7 linked regions of the Homo sapiens genome follow. The protein of the gene in region 6 purifies or fractionates together with the protein of the main gene of each other region. This does not show direct contact. Each region holds a gene or a part of one and is shown on either strand. Other genes may lie near its edges.

Evidence for each region.
Region 1: the proteins of USO1 (region 6) and OSBPL11 purify together in Homo sapiens (co-immunoprecipitation; one large-scale study listed by IntAct). This does not show direct contact.
Region 2: the proteins of USO1 (region 6) and PLCH1 fractionate together in Homo sapiens (co-fractionation; one large-scale study listed by BioGRID). This does not show direct contact.
Region 3: the proteins of USO1 (region 6) and TRIP11 purify together in Homo sapiens (affinity purification with mass spectrometry, with the first as the bait; one large-scale study listed by BioGRID). This does not show direct contact.
Region 4: the proteins of USO1 (region 6) and CEP68 purify together in Homo sapiens (affinity purification with mass spectrometry, with the first as the bait; one large-scale study listed by BioGRID). This does not show direct contact.
Region 5: the proteins of USO1 (region 6) and FAM184A purify together in Homo sapiens (affinity purification with mass spectrometry, with the first as the bait; one large-scale study listed by BioGRID). This does not show direct contact.
Region 7: the proteins of USO1 (region 6) and POLR1B fractionate together in Homo sapiens (co-fractionation; one large-scale study listed by BioGRID). This does not show direct contact.

The regions. Positions count from the first base shown.
Region 1 is NC_000003.12:125,550,498-125,553,997, reverse strand, and holds part of OSBPL11 (oxysterol-binding protein-related protein 11), read left to right. Parts: intron 1-1,318; coding exon 1,319-1,817; intron 1,818-3,500. UniProt on the Homo sapiens protein: Plays a role in regulating ADIPOQ and FABP4 levels in differentiating adipocytes and is also involved in regulation of adipocyte triglyceride storage. Weakly binds 25-hydroxycholesterol. Interacts with OSBPL9 to function as lipid transfer proteins.
Region 2 is NC_000003.12:155,493,572-155,497,071, reverse strand, and holds part of PLCH1 (1-phosphatidylinositol 4,5-bisphosphate phosphodiesterase eta-1), read left to right. Parts: intron 1-2,554; coding exon 2,555-2,734; intron 2,735-2,823; coding exon 2,824-2,931; intron 2,932-3,500. UniProt on the Homo sapiens protein: The production of the second messenger molecules diacylglycerol (DAG) and inositol 1,4,5-trisphosphate (IP3) is mediated by calcium-activated phosphatidylinositol-specific phospholipase C enzymes.
Region 3 is NC_000014.9:92,005,560-92,009,059, reverse strand, and holds part of TRIP11 (thyroid receptor-interacting protein 11), read left to right. Parts: intron 1-1,207; coding exon 1,208-1,420; intron 1,421-2,611; coding exon 2,612-3,500.
Region 4 is NC_000002.12:65,083,916-65,087,415, reverse strand, and holds the end of CEP68 (centrosomal protein of 68 kDa), read right to left. Parts: 3' UTR 412-3,500; downstream 1-411. UniProt on the Homo sapiens protein: Involved in maintenance of centrosome cohesion, probably as part of a linker structure which prevents centrosome splitting. Required for localization of CDK5RAP2 to the centrosome during interphase. Contributes to CROCC/rootletin filament formation.
Region 5 is NC_000006.12:118,959,263-118,961,463, forward strand, and holds the end of FAM184A (protein FAM184A), read right to left. Parts: intron 923-2,201; coding exon 841-922; 3' UTR 501-840; downstream 1-500.
Region 6 is NC_000004.12:75,811,577-75,814,786, reverse strand, and holds the end of USO1 (general vesicular transport factor p115), read right to left. Parts: intron 2,628-3,210; coding exon 2,412-2,627; intron 1,582-2,411; coding exon 1,492-1,581; 3' UTR 501-1,491; downstream 1-500. UniProt on the Homo sapiens protein: General vesicular transport factor required for intercisternal transport in the Golgi stack; it is required for transcytotic fusion and/or subsequent binding of the vesicles to the target membrane.
Region 7 is NC_000002.12:112,569,965-112,573,464, forward strand, and holds part of POLR1B (DNA-directed RNA polymerase I subunit RPA2), read left to right. Parts: intron 1-2,597; coding exon 2,598-2,794; intron 2,795-3,500. UniProt on the Homo sapiens protein: Catalytic core component of RNA polymerase I (Pol I), a DNA-dependent RNA polymerase which synthesizes ribosomal RNA precursors using the four ribonucleoside triphosphates as substrates.

The sequences.
Region 1 (3,500 bases), on a different chromosome or scaffold from region 6:
ATCTGTGCATATTGTAACCTACTGCCTAAGTTTCAGCTTTCTAGTTAGGAACTCTCAAAATTTTGTTGTGTTTTGTCTACTTTCCTGGTATCTCTGGGTTTGTCTTTATATGAAGTTAATTTAATTTCAGTGGAATTTCGACAGAAAGTGAAATTAAGATGCATGTGTTCAATTCACCAGCTGAACCTGCAACATCCACTGTCTTTTGTATTATTTGTATCATCTTCAAAACCGTCTTTTTAAATGACTATAATAGTCAATTAAATGAAAGTTCCCTACTTCAGTTAGCTAGAACCGTAGTTTAAAATGCAGGTTGTTCTAATTATTTTTTCACATTGCTTTTCCTTCATTCAATTATTTATTTCCTAAGGCTAGATTCTTGGAATGTAAGTACTAGGCTAAATGGGTAAGAACATCTTAGGGCTCTTGAAAAATATTGCCAGATTTTGCTTTCTCAGACGTTTAAACCATTTTGCAGTGCCTCTCCCAACTCTGCTTTAAGTAAAATATTTATCTTTCTTACACTTACCTGGTTTTAAGTATAAAAATTTCTCTTATTGGAAATAGTTCTCTTGTGCTTAAGATTAAATATATGTTGCAGTTTTTGCTTCGGTCTGTGATCTCTTTAGTCTGTTCTCAGGGAATGACATTTATTGACTTTTCTCATGTCTTGGTCATTCATCTACAATTTAATTTTAACATAGGAAAGGAGCAAAGGCATGGCTAACATTTACTTTGAGTTTTAACACCATTTCCCTGGTGATACTTTTATCCAGTCTAGAAGTTTGAGGATTTTTTTGAAGTTTCTTCTGACTCTCTTGAATTTATGTTTAGTCTTGGGCAGATTTGCCTGTCCTTTTAAGAATGCTTTTTTGTTGTTGTTGTTAAGACAGGGTCTCACTCTGTTGCTCAGGTACAAGTGCAGTGGCGCAGTCATGGCTCATTGTAGCCTTGACCTCCCAGGTGATCCTCCCACCTCAGCCTCCTGAGCAGCTGGGACCACAGGCACAAGGCACCATGCCCAGCTAATTTTTGTAACTTTTGTAGAGACACGGTTCCACTATGTTGCCTCAGCTGGTTTCGAACTCCTGTGCTGAAACAATCCTCCCAACTTGGCCTCCCAAAGTGCTGTGATTATAGGCATGAGCCACTGCGCCTGGCCAAGAATGCTTATTTTTTAATGTGACTGAATACTTTTTCTTTGTGACTTTGTTTTTAATACCCATCTAGAATGAAATGTTTTCAGAGAGAGAATAGTTGTCTACAGATATGCTACACATGGATTAAATTTCCCCTCTTTCATTGATTGTTGTTTTAGGTGGTGCTTCCTACATTTATCCTAGAGAAGCGTTCCTTGCTGGAAATGTATGCAGACTTTATGTCTCATCCAGACCTATTTATAGCCATCACTAATGGAGCCACAGCTGAGGACAGAATGATTCGCTTTGTTGAGTACTACCTTACCTCATTTCATGAAGGCCGTAAGGGAGCCATTGCTAAAAAACCATACAATCCTATCATTGGAGAAACATTTCACTGTTCCTGGAAGATGCCAAAAAGCGAGGTAGCATCCAGTGTTTTTAGCAGTTCTTCCACCCAGGGAGTCACAAATCATGCTCCTTTATCGGGGGAGTCTTTGACCCAGGTGGGATCAGACTGTTACACAGTCAGATTTGTTGCTGAGCAGGTTTCTCATCATCCTCCAGTCTCAGGATTTTATGCAGAATGTACAGAGAGGAAGATGTGTGTAAATGCGCATGTCTGGACTAAGAGCAAGTTCTTAGGCATGTCAATAGGCGTGACAATGGTTGGAGAAGGTAAGTAGAAAAATTATTTTATATATATATATATATATACACACACACATATATATATGTATTTTTTTTTCCAAGCAGGAATGAAAGTTTACTTTAAAAGGCTTTAGAACAGGAAAGAAAGGAAAGTTCGCTTGGGAGAAACCCAAGCAGGCACGTGAAGGTCAAGTGCCTGTTTTATAATTTTTAATATCAAACTACAATCTTAAATTTAGGAACCCCAGATAAATATTAACTCTAAGTTTAAAATATTATGTTACTTTTTCGCTCCAATTTCTAGAGTGTTCCAGAATGCTTCTTGTGGGGATGGGAGGAGTATATCTATGAACTAATGTAAATTCTCTTTTTAAATTATTTTTTTCTGATTTTAAATATTTCTTTTCGTTTGTTTTCTTTTCTTTTTTTTGAGATGGAGTCTCGCTCTGTCATCCAGGCTGGAGTGCAATGGTGCTATCTCCGCTCACTGCAAACTCCGCCTCCCAGGTTCAAGCGATTCTCCTGCCTCAGACTCACGAGTAGCTGGGATTATGGCGCCTGCCACCATGCCACCACACCCAGCTAATTTTTATATTGTTAGTAGAGATGGGGGGTTTCACCATGTTGGTTAGGCTGGTCTCAAACTCCTGACCTCTGATGATCCACCCACCTCGGCCTCCCAAAGTGATGGGATTACAGGCATGAGCCACCGTGCCTGGCGATTTTAAATATTTCTTATCAAATATTTGGAAAACTAGAAAAGTACAAAGCAGAAAATAAAAGCTTCTGTAATGCCTGCATCCATATATATATAAATTTAATATTTTATACTTTTTCTGTGTGTGTATGTTCATACTTTTAGCCTTATAAAATTAGAATTAATAATATATATAGTTTTGAGTCCTGCTTTTTAAATTAAATATATTCATTTTATCATGTCATTGATAAAACATATTTTAATGACTGCATAATATTCTATGAAATAGATTTTCCATCCTTTTTTTTAATTTAATTTAATTTAATTTTTTTTTTTTTTTTTTTTTAGAAACAGGGTCTTGCTCTGTTGCCCAGGCTGAAGTGCAGTGGCATGGTCATAACTAACTGCAGCCTTGACCTACTCGGCTCAAGCCATCCTCCTGCCTCAGCCTCCCAAGTAGCTAGGACTACAGGCATGCACCACCATGCTAGGCTAATTTTTTTAATTTTTATTTTTAGAGACAGGGTCTCAATATGTTGCCCAGGCTGGTCATGAACTCCTGGGCTCAAGTGATCCTTTGGCCTCCACCTCCAGGCATTAGCCTGTAATCTCAGCACTTTAGGAGATGGAGGCCAGAGGTGCTATTCATAGAATATTTAGGTGCTATTCATAGAATATTTAAAAATATATGCTGATAAAAGTTAATTCTACTTCATCAGAAGATTATGAAAAAATTATTTTTGGAAATGCAGAGTTTTTTGACCAAGAATATGAAACAAAAACAAAAATCTCCACAGAAATTATTGAAGAGTTAATGAAAATATAATGATAGGAAAAAAATACCACTTTTATGTTAAAGGAAAACTCTTATGCAAAGAACACTATGCTCTGAATGTCATCTTACAGTGTAAGCATGGCATCATTAAGCCAATCTAATATTTTGAGATTGTGTTATAGTCGTTATGAAGAAAGTATCCTCTTTTTCAGTTTTCCTCATTTTTAAGTTCTGTTGT
Region 2 (3,500 bases), on a different chromosome or scaffold from region 6:
ATTACTATACAAAGACAAGTGCCTCAGGGCAAGATCTTCCTGCAACACTTGAACTGTGAAGTCCAGGCCCGGCTTGAGGACCAGGTCACAGATGGCCATTCCAAATGCGAATGACCAAAAGAAGAAATTAATTGGCTAAAATCACACCTTGAAAAGCCCTATATTTTCTCAATGAAAGTTTTGACTTGGGTGAAAATAGCTTAATCCAGATTGAAGTTTTAACAAAAAGAGCAGAAATCTCAGTAGCATTCTCTCCGTCACTGTTTTTTACCTATCAGTTGCCACACGGAGCTGAGAAATTCTAGTCACATCTATTCATATCCTTGGCTTTCCTGCTAGTTACTCTTGTCTCCTTTATCTTCTATTTCATTTAGTTACTGAATGCTTACAGAAAAAAAACCTACTGTCATGTGGCTTTTCATCTAATTTTAATTTTAGTGGAACCGAAATGTAAATCAGGACCTCCAAATTTCTCAACAAGTTTTAGTGAAGGGAAAACAACATTGTGTCCTCACAAACCTCCAGGATTCTTCCCTCCCATCTCCCCCTGCCCAGCCCCCACTCCACAAATGTATCTTTTTCTATTTGCAGAAAGATTTCTTCCCTTTGGCCTTGATTCCTTCTTCAAATGGTAACAATTATACAAGATTTAAATGAATTTCACATGTGAGAGCATGAGAACCTGTAGGATTCTCAGCAACTGAGCAACACACTCTTACAACAATTGCCCTTAGCTCAAAAATAAACTCAGGGAATGATTGCATTAAGTTAAAGGTATATTTGGTTTAGGGAATAAAAATTTCCAATAAATGGCTTGGAAAACATAATCCTATTAACTTAATGGAAATTAATCTTGAGTACTATTTAGCTCTGGAACTTCAGCTGTTTTTGTCTTTTTAATTTTTTTGCCAGCCACAAAATGAAAACTAGATAATGAATGCATGGCTTATCCTAATGTGATACAACTCAACTCTATTAATATACTAATTGATATGTGCCTAATTAGCAAGGTCGTATCAATGATATTGTGATGTGCATATTTATGTAGAGAGACAGACAAAACAGTAGTAGTGATTATAGTCCTATTCTATCTGAATTAGGCTTGTCAAAAAGATATTTTCTCCTATAATGTTTAAAACATCCCTCATCAAAATCTGCAATTAAGTTCAATATTAGTATGCTTGAGATATGTAAACTGTGTTAATAGGTTATGCCAATAAAAAATATATGAACATGTATCTTTAAGGAAAGGGTCTAAACTAGAAACATCATCACATTAAAAACTGTAATCCTCTCATTTCTTTGCCACAGTTTGTATTCCTGACTCTTCTAACTCGGGAGTATCATTGTCAGTTGGGCAGCATCTAACATCTAAGGGTGTACAACCCTGAGGACCACAGGGGCCCTGGGAAACTGTGTGTTAATAAACATGCAGAGTCTAGATATGACTCAGGCCCAGCTGGCAAAGCGAGACCATATACAGTTCAACTCTTTGGTTTCATGGACCACATCTCTCTGTCTGGGCTCAGACACACTCAGCTTATTAGGGCTGAATAAGAATGAGATTCTGGGTAACTTTGGGTCTTTTTATCTGGGCTGGTCTTTTCCAGCATGTTCAAATGACATATGGGCGGCCATTTTGGGGATAGGGTATGGGTTCTTGGTGAAGGAGTGGAAATAGCGGGGGCTTTGTAGATATGGTACAAAAGGTGGGATTGGAGACAAGAGTGGAATATTAAATGTTTGGAGCTTTACTCCATTATGACCCCCAAATTTGCAGCTTCTGTGAGTCTAGATTGACCCCTCCTGATGATTGTGCTGGCAGAAACTTTAGTACAGGCTTCATGTACTTTTACCTTCCTTTACTTTGTTCCATAGTTTATATGCGTGGCTAGGTGAATGTCTGTCTTTGTTCTTAAAACTTTTATTCCTTTATAATGCTTTTGACCTCTTTTTCTCCATTATTATTCCTTTCTCCCAAATAGGTTTTGACTTGTTCCATAGTTCTATTCAAAGCAACTTTAAAACTCAACTTTTTATTTTTATAATTGTTCATTTTCCTTTATTTTCTTGGATCCTGGATGTTACTAGTAATACATGTTTTACTTGTGTGCCTTTTAGATGAGTGCCTTCAATGAATGTCTTCCTGTTATCAGGAAGAAGCTATCTAGTTTTATTTATCCATGGTTGTCTATATATTTGGCAAATATATTCTGTTTAAGTTATTTTTTCTACCTGTTCTTTTCATGCTAGCCAGATAGGCATAAATTAGCGGTATGATTGAATTCTTAGGGAGAACAGGGGACCCAGAAATAGACAGCTACTTGAGCAAGACACACAGCTCTGATTTGGCCTCAAAATGGCAAAAGAACCCTATGAATGGAATGTTATGGGTCTTTTCTGTTGAGGAGCTGCCTCTACTCTGGTTGAATCCACTCTCTAGTGCTCTGCTTTTTGCTATTGGTATAATCTGACATTATTATAAAGTCTTCTGTGCGTGGTGTTTTCTTTGCTGTAGTTCTCACTTCCTTTTTTCTCGATTAAAAACTGCCAGGAACCACAGGAAATGTGTTATCATTCAGTGAAACAAGAGCACATCAGGTTGTTCAGCAAAAATCAGAGCAGTTCATGATTTATAATCAAAAGCAACTCACGAGGATTTACCCCTCTGCCTACCGCATTGATTCCAGTAACTTCAACCCTCTCCCCTACTGGAACGCAGGCTGCCAGCTAGGTGTGTATTCCTTGGGAAGGAGTGGTTCTCTGTATATTCTCACTATGCCACCATCTTGCCTAATTCTCTCCCACTTTCAACTTGCACAGTGGCACTGAATTATCAATCTGAAGGACGAATGATGCAGTTAAACCGAGCCAAATTCAAGGCAAATGGCAATTGTGGCTATGTCCTCAAACCCCAGCAAATGTGCAAAGGTGTGTATTAATTTCATAGTCATAAATGCAGGTGTGTGTTAATTTCATAGTCTAAATGCAGGCAACCTTTATTAAGGAAGCTGTTTAGAAAGTGTGATACCCCAGAGTTTTTCAACTTTTTTTTTTCAAAAAGATAGGTTAAGGTGTTTGAATGTGAATTAGAATTCTTGTCACCACTACTTAATATTTGGTTAGCCGTGATGTTTAGAATGTTATCTTGAGAGGTCGTGTGTGAAAGAGGGACATGGATAGCATTGGGTTATCACTTGAAATCCAGTGCCCCATATAAGCTGGACTGCTTTTTAAGGTCTGAGCCCAATCTTTCAGAAACTATCTTAAGTAATGTGAGTCTGTGACCTGCTGGGAAGCTTCAATTCCACCTGAAACAATTTTATCAAGCCCTTTTACTCAGTGTAGTCCAATTACAAAACAGTGCTAACAAAAGAGAAAGGATAGGCTGGGCATGGGGGCTGACGCCTGTAATTCCAGCACTTTGTGAGGTCAAGGTGGGCGGATCACCTGAGGTCAGGAGTTTGAGACCAGCCTGGCCAACATGGTAAAACGCCGTC
Region 3 (3,500 bases), on a different chromosome or scaffold from region 6:
AATAAATTTTTGAATTAGAAGGAAATAAGAATTGTGATACAGATACTCTAGTATAGCTTTTATCGGATCTCTGTTTTTTCAACCAACTCTCCATAGCAATGTTGAGTTTCTTTTATAAGGTTTATATTAGGCTGTTTCTTTGAAGGAATTTGAGATTCTTATTTTTTTAATTTTATTTTTTAGAGAGAGAGAGTCTTGCTGTATTGCCCAGGTTAGAGTGCTGTGGCTGATCATGGCATGATCATAGTGCACTACAGCCTTGAACTCCTTGGCTCAAGTAATCCTTCTGCCTCAGCCACCTAAGTAGCCTCCTGGGACTATAGATAAATGCCATCATGCCTGGTTCAATACTCTATTTAAAGTAGATTCCATATGGGTTTGATTTTTAAAAATCTGTCAATGAAAGAAGGCTTTAATATATAGTTTATTACAAACATCATAACTAGAGACTGAAATAATGTTGAAGCATAGAGAACTGTCCCACTTCTGAGATTTTGGAGAAAGCATTAAATACCAGGTAGTAGACTATAAAATGTATATATACTATCTTTAGGAATGTCAGGTGTGACAGAGGGGAACCTAGTCTGGTTAAAAGGTAAAGGAAGGAAGGAGGATTCTTTCTAGGGTCAAGAAAAAGTTCCATGTTCTAACAGAAGCAAAAGTAATAAGGGAAATTCCTTTAGTAAGAGAAAAGAAACCTTTTATTTTCTAATTAGAGAGGCTAAACATTTGGGTGAAGGAGTGTTGATTTTTTATATTTTTATTTAGTCTGAGGCTGTTGATGACTGGATGTTAGAGAATGGAAGTGAGGAAGGCAGAAAGACTTGCGGACATTTTGGAAAGTATGTATGTATGGTAGGTGGGGCCAGGGGATGGATAAAGGGTAGCCACGGTGGAGCAGGATAGGAGAGGCTCTCAAATGGGAACGTTTTTTATAAAGAAGAACTTGGTGCTAGAGGACAAACTTACAGTCGCTGCATCTGTCTAGGGTTATAGAAATGTTTTGCTTGAAGCTACAAGTAAAATTGCACATGAATGAAGGATGTGGTTTGTTGAATTTCACATACAATTATTGAGGTATTGTTCAATATTATTTCCAATATAGAGCACTTAAATAGAATCCCAAGTTTTGCTTCTATGTATGTTTTTAATCTTTTGGTGTCTCCAATTGAAAGTATGTGTTGCTTTTTTCCTTTTATCATTTCAGGAAGAACTTCAGATGTCACTTTTAAAATTGAACAATGAATATGAAGTAATTAAAAGTACAGCTACAAGAGACATAAGTTTGGATTCAGAATTACATGACTTAAGACTTAATTTGGAGGCAAAGGAACAAGAACTCAATCAGAGTATTAGTGAAAAGGAAACACTGATAGCTGAGATAGAAGAATTGGACAGACAGAATCAAGAAGCTACAAAGGTAACACTGTATTAAATACAGTAAGGCAGCACATTCTACTAAGTAAACTAAACACAGAAATGGTGGGTGTGATTTAATTAATATTTTAGTTCATAGAGATTGACAAACCTTTTTGGTAAAGTGCTAGATAGTAAATATCATTGGCCTTGTAGGCCATATTGTCTCAGTCTACTCAACTCTGTTGTTGTGATACCAACAAATGAGTGTGACCATGTTTCAACAAAATTTTATTTACAAAACAGGCAGCATCCCTGAGTTGGCCAATGGCTATAGTTCGTTGACTCTTACTCTAGTGTAGAGTTAAAAATAAACAACATGCCGGGCGCAGTGGCTCATGCCTGTCATCCTAGCACTTTGGGAGGCAGAGACGGGTGGATCACGAGGTCAGGAGTTCAAGACCAGCCTGGTCAAGATGGTGAAACCCCGTCTCTACTAAAAATACAAAAAATTAGCCGGCCGTGGTGGCAGGTGCCTGTAATCCCAGCTACTCGGGAGGCTGAGGCAGAGAATTGCTTGAACCCAGGAGGCAGAGGTTACAGTGAGCCGAGATCATGCCACTGCACTCCAGCCTGGGCAACAGAGCGACTCTGTCTCAAAAAAAAAAAAAATACTATTTACCATCTTTGGTTTTAAATTCTTATCCCTAAAATGCTTTAAGAAATGACAAGATGGGGCCAGGCACAGTGGCTCATGCCTGTAATCCCAACACTTTGGGAGGCTGAGGCAGGCAGATCACCCGAGGTTGGAAGTTTGAGACCAGCCTGACCAACATGGAGAAACCCCATCTCTACTAAAAATACAAAATTAGCCGGGTGTGGTGGCGCATGCCTGTAATCCCAGCTACTCGGGAGGTTGAGGCAGGAGAATTGCTTGAACCTGGGAGGTTCAAGAGGTGGAGGCGGAGGTTGCGGTGAGCCGAGATTGCGCCGAGCCGAGATTGTGCCATTGCACTCCAGCCTGGGCAACAAGAGCGAAACTCCGTCTCAAAAAACAAAAAAGACAAGATGGGTTTGCTGTAAAATAATAATAAGTAATTTTGTAGTGGGTGTTTTTGATAGAAAAACAATGTTTTTAAGAAGGATTAGAAATATTTGAGGATTATTTTCTATTATGTATGAGATTTTATAAAATTTTCTTTGAGTACTAAAATGAGAACATGTTGTAAAGTCACCATGCAAATTTTTCTTTCAGCACATGATTTTGATAAAAGATCAGCTATCAAAACAACAAAATGAAGGAGATAGCATCATCAGTAAACTGAAACAAGATCTAAATGATGAAAAAAAGAGAGTTCATCAACTTGAAGATGATAAAATGGACATTACTAAAGAGTTAGATGTACAGAAAGAAAAGCTAATTCAAAGTGAAGTGGCCCTAAATGATTTACATTTAACCAAGCAGAAACTTGAGGACAAAGTAGAAAATTTAGTAGATCAGCTAAATAAATCACAAGAAAGTAATGTAAGCATCCAGAAGGAGAATTTAGAACTTAAGGAGCATATTAGACAAAATGAGGAGGAGCTTTCTAGAATAAGGAATGAGTTAATGCAGTCTCTAAATCAAGACTCTAATAGTAATTTTAAGGATACCTTACTTAAAGAAAGAGAAGCTGAAGTTAGAAACTTAAAGCAAAATCTTTCAGAATTAGAACAGCTCAATGAAAATTTAAAGAAAGTTGCTTTTGATGTCAAAATGGAAAATGAAAAGTTAGTTTTAGCATGTGAAGATGTGAGGCATCAGTTAGAAGAATGTCTTGCTGGTAACAATCAGCTTTCTCTGGAAAAAAACACTATTGTGGAGACTCTAAAAATGGAAAAAGGAGAGATAGAGGCAGAATTGTGTTGGGCTAAAAAGAGGCTGTTGGAAGAAGCAAACAAGTATGAGAAAACCATTGAAGAACTGTCAAATGCACGTAATTTGAATACCTCTGCCTTACAGCTGGAACATGAGCATTTAATTAAACTCAATCAAAAGAAAGACATGGAAATAGCAGAACTCAAAAAGAATATTGAACAAATGGATACTGACCATAAAGAAACTAAGGACGTTTTGTCATCTAGTTTAGAAGAGCAGAAGCAGT
Region 4 (3,500 bases), on a different chromosome or scaffold from region 6:
TTAACTTGGTGTTGGAGGAGGGTTTAAGCATTAAGATAGGAAGCAGGAAATTTGATTGCTCTAAATTTAGAAATTATATCCCTAAAAATTAAAACATGAATACTGGGTGGTAATGATAATTGAGGCAAATGTATTTATTTTGGTGACATTTTGCATATATGAAGATTTTCTGAAATAGGACCTTCAAGATCCTAGGGGGTTTTGTTTGGTTTTTAATTGTGAGGAATAAAAAATCTTCTGCCCACACTGGCATTTTAAGGTGACTGAGGTCAAACGTTGTTTCCTTAGGTTGAAATAGCAGCCAAAACATTCTTCACGCAGGGGCTTGGGATATGGCTGCTGGCAACACATTTTGTTGTGGGCTCCTTAATTTAATGATAAAATTTAAGCTAAACACAAGCCAAAAATGAATAGGTTTTTTTAATTTTTATTTTTCACTAAACAGGCAATTGAAATACATGGTACAAAAATAAGTGGTAAGATAATTGTAAAATGAAATGGACAGAATATTCAATTTTCCATCTATGAAAATTTCACAATAAAAATCATAGTTTACTTTGTATTATAGGCGTGCTTGGTGGATCTATTCATCCTCACATAAGGCAACTGACAAATTCCTGAAGTTACCAATAGTTATTTTGGTGAAGATCTTTAATGCTTCAGAAGTTTTGTTTTTGCCTTAATACAGTATAAAGGGGGAAAGAGTTCAGAAACTATTTTCTAAAGTAGCTAAATGACACAAAACAAATGTCAAGATACTGTGATGCCATGCCGTGCACTTCATTTTTACACAGTAAAAGTTGTTTAAATTGTCAGCTTATTCTTGGTGAGTTAGCGGAAACATTACATGAACTTAAGATGAGCATATTTACAGACTTAAGTTTGGAAAATTCCAGCGTTCTTTTCCCCATGGCAGTAAAGATTGGGATTTACAACAAATTTCAGCATGCCTTAAGATTTGCTTCTATGTATACGCCAATAAATGTGGTTCTGGAAAAAATATATACCCCTTTATACCCCCATTTTCAAGTACAAACGGTTCAAAGCTACTACAGGTTTTAATAATCTGTTCACTTAGTAAAGGGAATTACCACTTGTTCTAAATATAAGGTGCTGCCATAAATTAGTTTACATAGTGAAGAAGAGTGTTCTTAAATCTAAGCAGCTGCACACTCTGTGAAATCCTTTCAGAATGATAGTCATTGTGGTCTGAGCAGTAATTTCCTATTCTTCGACCTTGGATTGAATTTCCCTTAGCCTACATCTTGCCTTTCCAGCATATCTTACCTCAAACCTTCTTTGTGTTCCATTCCCACCTAAGCTTCAAAATAGCCGTGTTGACGTCGTCTTCCATTTGCTGAGCTTACCTATGGATCTCCAAGAACCCAGATCTTGAAACTGCTGATCCAGCTTTGAGTATCATCACTTCCCTGTGGATTTAACTTCCATTAATTTTAAGGGACTACTAAGTTATTCCAGTGTGGCATCACAGTGCAGTTAGCAAGCTCAGCTACTTGACTCTAATTTGGCCATGTTTGCTCATAGAAATGCTGCTGGCAGCATCTTACTAGGCTGAAACAATTTCAGCTTGATTTTTTTTTTTTGAGACAAGAGTCTCACTCTGTTGCCCAGGCTGGAGTGCAGTGGTGCCATCTCAGCTCACTGCAAGCTCCGCCTCCCGGGTTCATGCCATTCTCATGCCTCAGCCTCCCAAGTAGCTGGGACTACAGGCGCCCATCACCACGCCTGGCTAATTTCTTTTTGTATTTTTAGTAGAGATGGGGTTTCACCGTGTTAGCCAGGATGGTCTCGATCTCCTGACCTTGTGATCCACCCGCCTCGGCCTCCCAAAGTGCTGGGATTACAGGCATGAGCCACCGTGCCCAGCCTTCAGCTTGAGTTTTAAGGTAAGTCTTAAACTTAAAGCACGGCGGTATAATTAACAGTTGTGTTGATACTCTTCAGTAGCATTCACAGCCAGGTCCAGGGAGTTAGCACCCTTTAGTCTCACCTTATTCAGAGGATGAACAAAAATATCTTAGATCATCTCTAGGTAAGGTAGTACTTTCTTGGGAAACAGGGTATTGTGTAACATTCTGTGCAAATTCCTGTCAGTTGAAGCTGATTATTAGTTGAATGGGAATAGAATGCCACATTCTGCATTCAATTAGTATAATATTGGCCAATTTGTTTCTATAGGGTTTTCATCTCCAACTTTTATGCTAATTAATACACTTCTATGCCTGTCAAATATTAGTAAATAAATGGGTTTAATTTCCTAAGGGCTATTCAGTAACATACTCAGTGGAAGGACATGTTCCTACTTATAAATGTACATCTAAGAGAAGGTAAAATATATCAATTTAAGAAGAGGCCGTCAGACATCTCTACCTTTTTAACCAACTCTAGGTTTTCAAGAATGTTTTACATACAGGTTTATAATTGACAATTATTTGCTAGAGTGGTTTTTCCCTTTTAAAGTCTCAGTGTGTATGGAACTAAGATGATTAATATGGCAAACTCATAAGCCATTTTAATTTTGATCATGCCCTTAAGCATTATGATAAAGCATACCACAGCAGCATCAGGCACTTGAAATACTGCATTTTATGTGTAGCTACTGTTGAAGAGCTAATCTTTAAAGAATTTAATGGCTATTTTCCAGTGACTATAAAGTCTCAGAAATTCTGAAGCAGAAAAGTCACATTAATAATAGGACTTTAGTTTCCATTGTTACTGTGCTTTCCTCCTTCCAGGTTCATTCATGGCCCAACAGAACTTTAAAAGTGCTTTTCTGTAGAATCTGCAGTTACCAGCAATAACTGATCATCTTGCTGCAAAAAGCTATAGAATTGATGCTTTGAATGGTTGATCCATAGTTTTTTTTTTTTTTAATCAAAGTACTTATGTGTCAATGCCAAAGCAACGAAGAATTCCCCTTTTTCCTTCACTATTGACAGCTTCAGTTTCTGTACTTACTGTGTCATCCTATCCGTTCCCTTCCCTGAGCCTGGACTGCTCTTCCAAGGGAGACTAGGAGTGAAGGGAGGAGTCCTCCCAAAGTTACCCTTTAAGCTTGATAATTAGCTCCATAGCCATGCTAAAGCATGACTGTAGATCCCCAAGTCCCTGACACATTTTCTTCTAAGAAACTGGTTAGCCAAGAAAGTAAAGACGTAAGCCCTGAAGATGGCAAAAGGTGTCATAATCTCCCAAAGTCATCTGTATAGATGCTTCATTTAACCCTTTTTCTTTTGCAGACAAAGGGTTAAAAATCTCTTCTTTCTACCTATATCTTTAAAGAGGGATTGACAAGCCCAAATTTCCTTTTATGAAAAGACCCAAGGTTTCTGGCCAACAATTCACTTTTTTCAGTCTCTTAGGTCCTCTTGCATGCCTGAGAATATTGAGTATTCGGAATCTCCTACCAGCCCTTGGTAAATGACCCTACCAGGTGGAATAGTTTGAGCTTTATCTGCTCTTTTTTAATGGGATAGAGG
Region 5 (2,201 bases), on a different chromosome or scaffold from region 6:
CCTTGTTGTTCTCATCCACACTTGTGGATTTCTCTATCTCATACATGCCATGTTCCAAAACATCTGTAGCCCAGTCTTTCTTTTCCTGAGCTCCAAACCCCTATGTCTCACTCCCTATTAATTACACCAATTTAGAAAACTATCAAACTGGCCTTTAAGACAAATTAAAATCAAATTGACTATTTATTCTTTACCCAGTGACTTTTGGCCATAAAACATAGTATTAATTATAGATACTAACTGTACTAAAGTTCTAGATCTCAACTATCAAAACTGAAAAAAAAAAAACCACCTAAAAGTCAACAGTATTTTATACACTTGAAAGTCCACAATTTACACAAGCACTTTCATTCTAGCTTTGTAAATTTAGAGAACAATTTAGTTAAAATTACACATTGTACTGGAACAAGAGTTTCTATTTCCCTATCCTGATTCTATTATGATTACTGAAGTCAAATAATTTGATATGACATGATTATAATGCAGTAAAACTTGTTGACAAGTCTTACCTGGAATTAAAAAATATTTAAAAATTAAAGCAAACGTAGAAAAAAATAAAAAGCATTGTTTGATTCTAACAAAATTTATTATGCAGTAATTACAAAGGTTAAAGACTCTTCCATCTCAAATAAAAATAACAGTTATAATTACACACATAATATAGTACCTTATAGAATGATTCCAATAAATATCACAGGAAATACAGTGCATTTTCAAGTTGGAGAGACAAATACTTTCTCATTCACAGTGTTTGACATAGGAAAGCCTATTTACATAACAATCTGTATAAAGTCATGCTCTTAGTAACAGTCTATACAGAGCTGTGCCAACACAATTCTTTCAGAATGTGAAGTACCGGGCAAACCACTCCTGGCGCTGGGGATCTGGAGAAGCCACTGGAGAAGCTTCACTCTGAGCAGGACTGAATTCATAAAAAGAGAGACATGTAACCCAGCATTAAGTCATTTTGCAAAATGAAGGCAAAAGCACATAAAACATCAGCATAGATTACCACAACGGGTTCCCCATGTTGTAAGTCGTGTTTTAAAGATTTGCTACCCCCTCTATACTAGAATCGGTTCTCCACTCCATGAGAGCATAAGAGTGCATCAGCAGCTCAAATGAAGTCAGTTAAGGAGGAGCCACATCACAACAATCACAAAGAACAAAAAACAACTGCAAAAATGTCACCTTCTTTGAATAAAAAATTCAGTAAGAATTGTGGGAAACGAGAGAATAAAATAATGGTCCTCTCTTTCAGCACCTTTTCTCTTTTAGCTGATCGTACAGATGTGTCCTTAAATATAACTAAAGTAACTACTAGTATTTTTTACTATATGCATTTTACATTAAATTTTCATTTCATAATTCCCTATGCAAATACTCCAGGAAAGGGAGAACACTAAAAATATAATTTCCCCCGTTATTGATGTTATATAGTTTATACTTTTCTTAATTCTAACTAAAGATTCTTTGGGCTACTTAAGAAAACAAAAGAATCCCTACCGTCTTTGGGGAAAATTACAAGGCACGCAACAATGTGTAATGGAAACTCCAGTAGTCATGTTCCTTGAGCTCATGCACATGCATCTTACTGATACCTGAACATACCCATGCACAAGGGAAAATAAGCAACACAAAATATTTAGCAGGAGACAAATTCAGAGGTGTATCTGACTAATTTTCATTCTTGCTATTTTTTTTGTTAATCATTAACTATGTCACTAATCACTTAGCCTAAAAAAACCTGCCTACTTTGTAAGACTATTACTAGTGACACTGCTAAGATTTAGTAAGAATAAGAAAAAAAACATAAAGCAGCAAAAAATCAGTAATAGTAAGATGAGCATAAAACAACAGTACTTTCTGACTTTATCTAATGGCTAAATTTCTAATGAAATTTGCATTTCATTCAAAATTTGCTAATACATTTAATCAACAACTGCAAGGTAAAAAATTGGAATGGAAATTTTTAAAATTATTTATTTTTTCTAAATTTAGTTTTTGCATAAGTATATTTAAGTTCCCAGAGTTTACGTATGTTTCTATTTTGACAATAAGCATATATATATATATATTTATAAATAATCTTGGTAAACAAGAAAGGGAAAAAAATAAACATATATAAAAAACAAAAACCACTTAGTAAACAAAAAATTATTTTAAAGTTCTACAATAAGGATGGATTGTTAATTTAAAAA
Region 6 (3,210 bases):
AAGGTAGTCATTAACTCATGGTTCATTATGTGGTTGTCAACTTTAGGAAGACCTCACCTATCTGAGCTGGTCTGGTGACAGTAATATAGTTCTTTCTCTGATGGCAAGTGCCACCTTAGGATGGCAGTAGTGGTGGAACATGGGCACAGTGCAGCATTCACGAGTGCTCTGTAACACACAGCTGTCTCCTTCATCAAGACAGTGACCTTCCTTCTCTTTCAAAAGTTGTGTCCTATTCCTGACCCCAGAAGGCAGATAAATACGTTATTTTCTAGCCCAGGCTATCTTGTCTTTAAGTAAACCCACTTCTTCAACAGGAAATCATTGCCAAGAACTCCAGTGCTGAATTTAAAAACGTCCAAACCCTTTTCCAACCTCTTCTACTTCTGTACTTCTAACCCCCTCCAATCTTAGGGAATCATAATCATTGGTTTTAAAGAAGATTGTTTTTAACATTCAGTTATAGTTGTGTACCCCTAATAAGAAAAGTCGCCTCATCATTTTCACTTGCCTCATCTTTTATTAAGAATAAAATACTTTTAAGATGTAAACAAAGGGAACCATGACCAAGGATTAAGTCAACGTATCTATTTTTATTATGAAACATTAAATTTTGACACATTGCCTCATTTGCTTTTTTAAAATCTATTATCTGACTTAAACCTATTCAGCAAAAATGCCAATAAATTATATTAATCATACTTTGGGTCTTTTTAAAACTAGGAACATAATATGTTTTATGATAAACAATACTACTAAATCTGAGTTGTATGAACTGTTAACTTGAAATTTGTTTTAGATGTTTAGCTTAAAACAAAAAGAAAACCAATCACATTAATACACTGTTGCAAAAGTTTCTCCGGAATGCCCTCCACATCACTGTGTGTCAGCATCCTTCGGCTTCTTCACTGAGGTATGGAATGCAGCCATATGTAGGTGTCAAGGCACTCATTCTAAGCTGTCCTATCCTGCACATCTTAGCAATCACATTAGATGGAGGGCTGATGATATGCACTAACTCCCAACCCAGGCTATCTTGCTTTTAAATAAACTAATTTCTTTAAAAGAAAATCATCAACTAAGGACTCAAATGCTGAATTTAGAAATAATAATTCCAATTCAATACACATTCAATCAAATGTGTTAGTACTTAAAAGTCACAAATTTTGCAAAGTAAACAACGAATGAACTAAGGCAAATAGCATTGTCACCACATGCCTTAAAATGGTATATTTTTGGTGTTTGAAGCTCTTTGCAAATTACATTTTGGGACAGTTCAGATGGATTTAAATAAAAGATGTGTGTTCTACATAAATTCAGTTTTAAGGTTTTCAACATGGGTGGCAACATTACAAAAATATATCAATAGTCTTAATAGTGAATGTTTTCCACCTGGTTTCTAAATCTTTATTTTCCATGGAGGTAAACCAAAGTTTAGAGTCCATCTTCAGAGTTATGATATAATCTCTATTGTTCCTAGAGATTTGAAAACTAGATATGATCTAGATCCTTGCCAGGATCTTCACTTTCATCATCCTCATCCTCTTGGTCTCCAGATTCAAGTTCATCCTCTTCTTCAACCTAGAGGAAAAAGACGTATTTAATATTGTGAAAATCTGTTCATGTCACATTCAACATTTAACAATATATACTACTGATAATTTTTTTTTTTTCTGAGATGGAGTTTTGCTCGTTACCCAGGCTGGAGTGCAATGGTGCGATCTCGGCTCACTGCAACCTCTGCCTGCCAGGTTCAAGCGATTATCCTGTCTCAGCCTCCCGAGTAGCTGGGATTACAGGTGCCTGCCACCAAGCGCCCTGCTAATTTTTGTATTTTTAGTAGAGATGGGGTTTCACCATGTTGGCCAGGCTGGTCTCGAACCCCTGACCTCAGGTAATCTGCCCACCTCAGCCCCCCAAAGTGCTAGGATTACAGGTGTGAGCACTGTGCCCAGACAAATTTTGTATTCTAGTAACTACAGTAGAATATAAGCCATCTGATTTCTTTGATTTGATGCCAAGGCTCTCTGTCATTTCTAATATGAATGAGATATATCAGTTAACTTTGCTGATAAATGGCTACACCTCTTTACACACAAATCTGAAACAAACATGGCAAAAGATAATGACATGCTTGGGTGACTACAGTCTTGTTACCAATCAAATCAATTCACTTTCTAGGCTTACGGTCCAAAAGAAAATAGTCTGTAAGTACTGAAAACTGAACCTAATCTGTGTATTAAGTAAATTCAATGAAAACAGTGAAAACAGTATAGATGGTACCATATTCATGAACCCACATATCCATTCCTATAATACAGGCACAACTTTTCCATGTTACATTAAAAATCTTTTAAATGCATTATACTAAAACATAATACAAATCATTTTTGGAGACATTTTAATCTTACTGGATGACCAAGATCCTTGAGTTTATTCTTCAATGACAGTATTTTCTGATCTTGATCGGCCAAGAGCACCAAGAGATCATCTTGTTCTTTTTTAGAATCTGTAATTTCCAACTCTAGTTTGTCTTTCTCAGTTTGTAAAATGGCAATGGTACTATTAGATGAATCCAGCTGCTCTTTAATGGCAGTTCTTTCCTCAGACAGAGCTTTAATTTCATTCTAGGAAAAGAAAGGTGAAAGGCAGGAATCTAAAATTAGCACTCACTTTCCTAGAGTTTTTAACAAATAGTTTCTTTCTATGACAAATCACTGTACTTGTTCAACCTAAGGAATTTAGGGGTGGAGGTTAAGGGTACAGGAGGTTTAACACACACACTAACATGAATTTATTAGACTGTTCATCAAAAATGGTTATTGCCAAAAAATAGTTTAACATCCAAAAAATAGTTTTAGTTAGCTATCCCTGAAAAAACCTTTAAGAGACTTAAAAAAAACAGTACCATTTCAGATAATCAAAGGAGTAAACAGAAACACAAAGCATTTTACAGAAGAAGTCTGATTAGTACCAGAATTTTAGAACTCAAAGCTCAAGTTAAAAAAAAATTTTTTATCCCAACTTCAAGCATACAATTAAATGAAAATAGCTTCAAATAAAAATCTATGGTTTAAAAATAAAATAATTTGGCCACAATCCAAAAAGCACAATTATACATTATTTTCCTTATTTTCCTTAATGTGACCTCATTCCTTTCTTCATGCTATTTATTCTGATGTCTCTGTCACACAATAATATGCTGACAGG
Region 7 (3,500 bases), on a different chromosome or scaffold from region 6:
TATTCATATATTTAAACCTTTTGATATTGTTCCATAAGACATTGAGTTTCTGTTCTCTTTTTTCTTTATTTTCTTCAGATTGGATCTTTTTTTTTTTTTCCCGAGATGGAGTCTCACTTTGTTGCCCAGACTGGAGTGCAGTGGTACAATCTCGGCTCACTGCAACCTCTGCCTCCCATGTTCAATAAATTCTCCTGCCTCAGCCTCCTGAGGAGCTGGGATTACAGGCACACACCACCATGCCCAGCTAATTTTTGTGTTTTAGTAGAGATACGGTTTCACCATGTTGGCCTGGCTGGTCTCAAACTCCTGACCTGAAGTGATCTGCCTGCCTCAGCCTCCCAAAATGCTGGGGTTACAGGTGTGAGCCACTGCACCTGGCCCAGATTGGATTATTTTTATTGACCTATTATCACAGTCACTTTTTATTCTGTCTTCTACTGAATTTTTGCTTACAGTCATGTGCCCTTAACGACAGGGATACCTTCGAAGAAGTGAGTCATATGTGATTTTGTCGTAGTGTGAACATCATAGAGTGAACTTACACAAACCTAGATGGCAGAGACTACTACACACCTAGTATATGGTATAGCCTGTTGCTCCTAGGCTACAAACCTGGGTGGCATGTAACTGTACTGTGTACTGTCTACAGTTGTAAGACAATGGCAAGGATTTGTGTAGCTAAACATAGAAAAGGTACAGTAAAAATATGGGATCACCATAGTATATATGCCATCCTGCATTGACTAAAACATTGTTATGCAGTGCATGCCTGTATTTTTCAAGTCCAGCACTTCTACTTGTTTCTTTTTTTTTTCTTTTTTTTTTTTTTGAGACAGGGTATCGCTCTGTCACCCAGGCTGGAGTGCAGTGGCACGATCTTGGCTCACTGCAACCTCTGCCTCCCCAGTTCAAGCAATTTTCCTGCCTCTACCTCCTGAGTAGCTGAGATTACAGGCATGTGCCACCATGCCCAGCTAATTTTTTGTATTTTTAGTAGAGGCAGGGTTTTATCATGTTGGCCAGGCTGGTCTCAAACTCCTGACCTCAAATGATCTGCCTGCCTCAGCCTCCCAAAGTGCTGGGATTACAGGCATGAGCCATTGCGCCTGGCCTGACTTGTTTCTTTTTTTATAGTTTCTTTCTTCTCTAAGATTTCTTATCTTCATTCATTGTGGGCATGTTTTCCTTTATATTTTGAACATAGTTTTATATGATGGGTGTTGTAAAATCATTATCTGCAGATTCCAATGTCTGGGTCATCTTAGTATCAGTCTCTTTGAGTATAAGTCAAGTTTCACCATTTCTTTGTATGCCCAGTAATATCGGATTGTATTATGAACATTGCGAGGAGTATGTTTTAAACCCTGGATCCTGTTAGGGTCCTCTGAAGAGGATTGGTTTTGTTTGTTTTTAGTGTGGTGTTTGGCCTTCAATTACATTTTAATTTTTTTCATTTTATGTCTTTCCTTCTTAATACACAGTCCATCACCTGGTTCAGTGCATGTCACCAAAAATTCTCCAGGGGAAGAGGATTGGTTTTTAGTTTTCACTGGTACTTAACTTGGTGAACGTGGCAGTTGAAGTACATTCTTCAGCCTTAGGTGGGCTGCTGTGATCTGTCCCATGCATGCATAGTTCAGGAGTCCACCAAAGATTCGGACCCAATTTATATGCTGAATTTAAGGGTCTCCCTTTGTGGTTCTCTCATTTCTGAAATGTTCCCCCTTCCCAATTGTTGTCATGCTCAGAACTCTATTTCTTGGTTCTTCAAGCCAGTAAGATTGTGGGTTTCTATCTAAGTTGTAGCTGCCACACTGGGCCATAAGGCAAAAATAAATACATAAATACTTAAAAACCTGGAAATTCACCCAGTGTGTTCCTTTTGTCCAAGTAAAAATTCTTCTCAGCTTCTGACAGCTTTTGGTTACTCTCCAGTGCTGTATGTGTAGTTGGGGGTCTGCGTCTCATACTTATGTGTTGAGGGTGGTCTAGTAAGAGTAGCCCTTTATTACTGGAAGCTCTAAGTCTATAATTTTTTTAAAAATTTCACTTGTATGTATTTATATTTTAAAATCATTTTGTCGTGAAATGATTCTCTGTACTGTGAGGTAGTACACAGAGGAATCTCACCCCATGCTCCACTACTTAGAATTAAATACATATTCCGCTGTAAGAAAGTAATCTAATTACGTAATAATTCCTATCCCCTTTTCTTCCCCGAGTAGTGATAGCCTGTAATTTGCGTACTTCCTTTCTGTCCCCTTCTAAAGCTTTTATTACATCATACATGTATCCATAAACTAAGTATAGAATTGTTTGGGGTGTGTTGCAAATACACATAAATCGTATCATATTAAATGTCAGTCTGCACTTTCTCCCACTCAGCATGGTTTTCCTGGTCTGGTCACGTTGATACATTTAGGTTTACTTCATTTTCACAGCTTATGTATTAGTCTAAAGTAAGCATAACTACCATGACTATTTATTTGTTCATTTTCCTCTGATGGATATTTAGTTGTTTCCAGTGTTGCGTATCACACCTATAATCAAGATGAAAGCAGCAGAAAATGCTAAGATGTTTTTTCTCCATGTAGGTAAGCAAACTATGGGCTTTCCACTTCTCACTTATCAAGACCGATCGGATAACAAACTGTATCGTCTTCAGACTCCTCAGAGTCCCTTGGTGAGACCCTCCATGTATGATTATTATGACATGGATAACTATCCAATTGGGACCAATGCCATCGTTGCTGTGATTTCTTACACTGGCTATGATATGGAAGATGCCATGGTAAGTTTTACCAGGAAATGTTGTTCCAATCTTTTTATTTTTTAACTTGTTTGTTTACTGTGAAATCACTGAAGGAATATTTTTGTGTACCCAAGTACCTAGTATTTGGCACGTGATGTTCTATTAAATGATTAGTTCTTAGTCTAAGTTGAAAGTGGGCAAGCCTTGAGGAATATCCACTAAATATTCAGATACACGTATGTCTTGCATATTTGAGTGCATATTATGAGTAAATTTTGAAGTTTGGTTTTGGATCTATCTACCTTTTATATTTAAGTATGATTAGATTTTAAGCTATTTCTGTGTGCCTGGGTTTTTGTTTTTCTTGTTTTTTGTTTGTTTGTTTTTTGTTTTTTATTTTTGAGACGGAGTCTCGCTCTGTTGCCCAGGCTGGAGTGCAGTGGCACGATCTTGGCTCACTGCAACCTCCACCTTCTGGGTTCAAGCAGTTCTCCTGCCTCAGCCTCTCGAATAGCTGGGACTACAGGCACCCATCACCATGCCTGGCTAATTTTCGTGTTTTTAGTAGAGATGGGGTTTCACCATGTTGGCCAGGCTGGTCTCGAACTCCTGACCTCAAGTGATCCACCTGCCTTGGCCTCCCAAAGTGCTGGAATTACAGGCGTGAGCCACCGTGCCCAGCCATGTCTGGGTTTTTGTAGTTAGTATCAGTGATTTGGAAAATGTGAGGAAAGTTAAAATGTGA